Linked DNA regions of Homo sapiens: region 1 is linked to region 2. The links come from fine-mapping of genetic effects on gene expression. Tissue or cell type: tibial artery. Region 2 holds a variant in brackets; the other region holds the start of a gene. All regions are shown on one strand. Distances are from middle to middle.

What was found.
Region 1: it holds the start of CCNB2, and the variant in region 2 is fine-mapped to the expression of CCNB2 in tibial artery (GTEx, PIP above 0.99).

What each region holds. Positions count from the first base shown.
Region 1 is chr15:59,103,558-59,106,469 of GRCh38, reverse strand. It overlaps CCNB2 (cyclin B2), which reads right to left and starts at 1,324. Exons shown (of 9, transcript NM_004701.4): 1 at 1,178-1,324. The coding sequence starts at 1,201. RefSeq lists an enhancer at 1,512-1,801.
Region 2 is chr15:59,135,140-59,138,051 of GRCh38, reverse strand. MYO1E (myosin IE) reads left to right here. Exons shown (of 28, transcript NM_004998.4): 28 at 596-2,912. The coding sequence ends at 672. Among named protein-coding and RNA genes, the nearest start is that of CCNB2, 31 kb to the right of the region's middle. The variant G/C (reference allele first, on the strand shown) is at 1,593.

The DNA of each region.
Region 1 (2,912 bases), 32 kb after region 2:
CCGACTCTAATAAAACTCCCAACAAGGGGTTTGAGTGGATCTACCAGGCAGAGAGAGGGGCCAGGGAAACTCAAGCCTTCCCTGAACAGAAAGGTTTTGACTATTAAATAACGTTATAGAATACATTATTATAAAAAATTACTTGTCAGTTGGACTTAGATCCACAAAAGGATATTAATTAAATGCTAAATGTATTCAATCTATTAGGATTCTCAAAAGTCACACTTCAATTTCTTCCAGCAGCAACTGCCAATCTGAAAAAGTGTTTGAAAATGTAATGCTTATGGGTAGAAGCCTGGTAATGTGACTCAATTTAAATTCATCTGGATAGGAAAATTGGCAGCTTTTATCTAACCTTATAGCCAAGATGATGGAACTCAGGTGTGTCAGGGCCCTCTAGCTTTCGGCAAAGGAAAAAAGTAGGTCCCGGTACAATTCAAGCCCACAGGAAAAATACCCAAAACACCATAACACTTTGATCTCTGCAAGGATGAAATAAATGAATTTGGACCCTTTTCTCTCAGTCTGCCACATTGGTCCAAATTATATTCAAAAACCTCTGTTACATTTGAGTAAAGAAATTAATTTTTTAAGGGGACAAACCCATTTATTAGTGAACGTAGCATGGAAGACTTAGCGTGCCGAAATAAATGGGAAACTCATACAAAAAGAAATGTGAACAATCTGAAAAACAGCCTGGCAGTTGCCTGATGAAACACGCCGTACACTTTACTGCCTACAGAACCCTTCCAGTCCTCCTCCCAGCCGCCATCACAGGTCCCTTAGTTGGCAAGGAGTTGTAAGAAAGGGGGAGGGAAATCCCAGGAACGTGGAAGTAGATAACTCTCTAGCAATGAAGAGCACTCGGGGATCGCTCGCTGAGTACTAGGCCTAGTGCTCTGGGGGCTCACTTGACAGGCGCCATCTCGGAAGCGCTTTCCTACACTTCTCCCACCCCGGGGCAGGGAGGGGTTAGGGGAGGGCGGAATCCAGACGGGGAAAGGCGGGCCGGAGAGGACCGGCCGCAGGGCCAGGGACGCGGGCGAAGCAGTGAGCTCCGGAGAAGAGAAAAGCAGCCCCGGTTGGGACGGAGAAGCTCGGAGCAGATGAGAGAAGCGACAGGGGAGCTGTGGGGCCGACGGACTCGCCTCTGAGAGCGGTCCCCGGGCACACTCACCGTCGGGCGTCGGAGCAGCGCCATGAGGGACGGGGAAGGCAAGAGTGCCAGCCCGGCCCAGGGAGGGACGCGGACTGAAAAGGGAGGACACTAGCGTACGAGGCGCCGTTAGGACTGCTCTCCGAGCCCGCAGCGCTGGGGATCTTCGACGCTGTAGCCTTGTTCCAGGATTCAAATACCGCGTCGCTTGCGCCCCATTGGGCGGCCCTGCGCACGGGTCGCTGTTCTCATTGGCCAACACAAGATGCACTCTCGCACTCTCATTGGCTGAATTTTCTTAGACACGTTTGATTGTCACAACAGCCGGTTGGGGTGTTTTTTCTGCCTACAGTCTTTTAAAAAAAAAAAAACCCCAGTCTCTGAGACAAACAAAAAGGAACTGTCTCATTGGGAAAGCAGACGTAGGACGCCTCTGAATTTTGACAAGGCCTCATCTACGAATTTCTCTCGACGTTTGTAGTGGGTGGGCGGAAGTTGGTTGGCCTTTATTCCTCTTCTGGTGTGTTGGGGTTTAAGTTGTGTTGGCCTGGGTGCAGGAACCGGCCCCTCCGGGTTGCTCAGGGATGCAGTGTGTTAGGTGGTTGAGATGCAAAAGTGTGCTTAAAAAAAGAGAGAATAATGGCGTTTACTCAAAAACCCAAATTCTCAAGTAAGGCAAAAAAAAAAAAAAAAAGATAAAAGAGATTTGTGTGACTGGTGATTCATGTAAGTTCTCCATTGTATTCCCAACACCTAGTACATCGTTTGTCGTATATGGTTGGTGCTCAATAAATGTTCGTCTAATAATCAGCCCAAGCAAAGAATTCATGTCTAAGACCCCAAAAGCAAATGCAACAAAAACAAAAATACATAAATGGGACCTAATTAAACTAAAAAGCTTCTGCACATCAAAAGAAATAATAGACAACCACAGATTAAGAGAAAATATTTGCAAACTATGCATCGGAAAAAGGCCTAGTGTCCAGAATCTAGAAGGAACTCAAATCAGCAAGAAAGAAAATAATGCCATCAAAAAATGGGCAAAGGACATGAATAGATATTTCTCAAAAGATATTCAAATGGCCAACAAATACATGAAAAAATGCTCAACATCACTGATCATCGAAGAAATGCAAGTTAATACCACAAGGAGATACCACCTTACTCCTGCAAGAATGGCCATCATTAAAAAGTCAGAAAAAAAGGCCGGGCGCAGTGGCTCACACCTGTAATCCCAGCACTTTGGGAGGCCTGTTGGGCAGATCATTTGAGCCCAGGTGTTCAAGACCAGCCTGGGCAACATGGCAAAACCCCGTCTCTACAAAAATACAAATATTAGCCGGGTGTAGTGGTGAGCACCTGTAGTCCCAGGTACTGGGAGGGGGGCGGGGGGCGGGGGGCGGGGGGCCGTGTGTTGGGGCAGGAGGATCCCTTGATCCCATGAGTCTGAGGCTGCAGTGAGCCATGATTGTGCCACAGTACTCCAGCCTGGGCAACACATTGAAACCCTGTCTAAAAAAGAAAAAAAACCTCAAAAAACAATAGTCAAAAAACAGTGTAGGCGTGGATGTGGGGAAAAGGGAATGCTTAAACACTGCTGGTAGGAATGTACAACTTCTATGGAAAAAAGTATGGTGATTCCTTAAAGAACAAAAAGTAGTTCTACCATTTGGTCCAGCAATTCCACTACTGGGTATCTACCCAAAGGAAAAGAAGTCATTATATGAAGAAGACACTTGCACATGTATGTTTACAG
Region 2 (2,912 bases):
CAAGACACCAGCTTTTTTAATGCTTCTTTCAGCTCTGCCCCCTTATTTATATTCCCTCCCTTGTCAAGCTGTTTTTCTTCATGGTAGCAAAACGGCAGCAGCAATTCCAGGCCAACATATCAAACCATGTCTGAAATGTGCATCATCTCTGAAACTTCTGTTCTTAGTCATTGGACAAAAGTCCTGACTTTTATTCTGATCAGACCAAATTAGCCATGTGTCCATCCCTGAACCAACTTCAGTAGCAAGACAAAGGCTGTACCCTGAGAGGATGAGACCTGGTAGGGGCTGTCCCCAGAAACGGGGAGGTCTGTCCCACCCACACTTCCTGGCTTCTTCATAATGAAAGTGGATGGAGTGGAAGCCAGGAAGACAACCTTGAATATCCATTATTAAAGCAGTCCATGGGCTTGGCTGAGTGCTTTATTAATTTGGTAGATATCTTACTTTTTTCAACAAACTTTTTGATTTAAAGAACAAAGGGAAAACAACATGGATGGAGCCAAATCACTTGAGCCCATGGGAGCGGAGTGTGTGTGGCTGGGGCAGAACAGACTTTCTCATCTTCACTTCCACCACCTCTCTCTCCCTGCAGATCCTTCTGGCTGGTGGACGGGTCGACTACGAGGCAAGCAGGGCCTGTTCCCCAACAACTATGTGACCAAGATCTGAGGTGCCCGTGACTCTGACACATGGGGCAGAGGAGCTCCAGGCACAGACCAGGGGAGGGGATATTTAGGGGCTCCCCTTACAATCCACAATGAGCAATTGCTTCTCCAAGGCCTGGAGCTATTCTGGTACCTTCCCCATGGAGGACACTGAAAAGGCTGGGTTGGGGACAGGGAGTATCACTCCATAAGTGATCCTAAAAGGTAGCCTCTTCATAGGAACCCAGGAGGACAAAACCACCATGCATTAAGATTTATTTATTGTATTTAAACCTGGTGAGAGGACAAGTGAGGTCTGCTCAGACCTTGTAGGCTTCTATCAAAACAGCACCCTGCTTGCTCACCAGGCCTAGAGAATGGCTGTAGGTGGCCGCTGACAAGTGCCTTTAGTTGAAGAGCACATTTCTTTCATCTCTCTTGTCCATACCTGATAGACACATTCCTCTCTGCCACCTTCCTTCAGGGAGGACCCGCCCTCTGCAGACTGGGCTTAGCGTGAGCAGGCACTTCCCATGTACGTGCCAAGGGTAAGCTGGCCTGCTGAGCCCAGGGCGACAGAGGGGCACTGGTTTACACTTTGCCGGGACCATCAGGGCCGCCAAGCAGGTCAGGGGCTGGGGGCTGGGGGCTGGGCTGCTGGCTTTGCTTTCTCTGGGTCTTCAATTAGAATGTGGCTGGCCCATATTGGTTTGTGTTTAAATGCTGTACTTACTACAAGAAGGATCTTTTTTCAAGCTGTACATTTATAAAAACAGATCATATACTGTATATATAAAAATCTTGAGATGGTAGAAACATGTATGAATGTACTAAGTAGTATTCCACTGTACTCATTCATAAGGTAGGTTTTCTTACAAAACTCACACCAGGTACTTAAAGATGTGCTCTGCTTTTTTCCAACTACGGAGTGTCACTGCTTTCTAG[G/C]TCAGTCCCTGCAGACTCTTCTCAACTCTTTCCCTATAGGAAACTTACTCCGCGTCCTGCCCCCACCTCCTAAATAAATAAAGGAATCGGCGAACACCTTCTTCTTTTATGACATTTGTTATGGGTTGAATTGTGTGCCTCCAAAGAAGATGTTGGAGTCCCAGCCACCAGTACCTCACAATATGACCTTATTTGGAAATAGAGTCTTTATGGAGCAAACAAACAAAACTAATTAAAATGAAGTCATTAGAGTGGGTCTTAATCCAATATAATGGTGTCCTGATGAAAAGGGGAAATTTGGACACAGAGACCAACATGCCAGAGGAAAGACCATGTGAAAAGGCAGGGAGAAGACAGCCATTCACAAGCCCTGGACAGAGGCCTGGAACAGATTCTCCCTCACACCCTCACAAGGAACCAGCCCTGCCCACCTTGGTCTTGGACTTCCAACCTCCAGAACTGTGAGGCAATACATTTCGCTGTTTAAGCCACTCGGTTTGTGGTAGTTTGTTACGGCAGCCCTAACAAACTAAAACAATGTTTTCTTGCCATAATAGTGAAAAGCTGGAATCAGTGTAATGCCCATCAATAATGGAATGGTTGTAAGTAGAGACTGCCATTTCTCTACCTTTCCTCCTCTGGGTGCCATAGCCATTCTTAAGCTACTGGTAACTTAGAGTTTGAGCAGCATACACCTTTGAGGCTTTCAGGATCCTCAAGTCCATGGGAAAAAATTATCAGGGCTTACGTATAAGGGAAAAAAATTGATCTAGATTTGAAACGAAGATACATTTAATTCTGCTGTGTTTTACTTCAAGAACAGGGAGCAAACTCCATTCTGTAACAGTAACGAATAATGTTAAAAGGCTACTTCAGTTCCATGTTGCGACCAGAGAGGAAAGTAGAGCCATGATGCGGTGAGTTGAGGAAAGGTAATCCTGTTGACACTAGTGGTCTCTAAAGTACTTTCACATTCATGGACTCCCCGCAGTGGGAGGAAGATACCACCAGAACTGGGACAGAGGAGCATGCTGGAGTCCCCACAGCCACCAGCACTCAGGCTGCGTTCTCAGGGCAGGAACACCAGGACCATCTTCCCTTGTTATCATAAGCCCCTGGCTGGCTGGGACAAGCCTTTGTTTTTCCTCCTGATTGATTGATTGGCATTTTACACTTGTGTGTAACTGGGAACCATCGGGCTCTAGGTCACAAAACAGGGACTGAGTTAAACCCCCACGAGTAACACCCTCATCCATGGAAATCACAGACCAAGCCCTTAGCACCTGCATCGTGTGCCCAGCCAGTGCCAGGCTCAAGGAG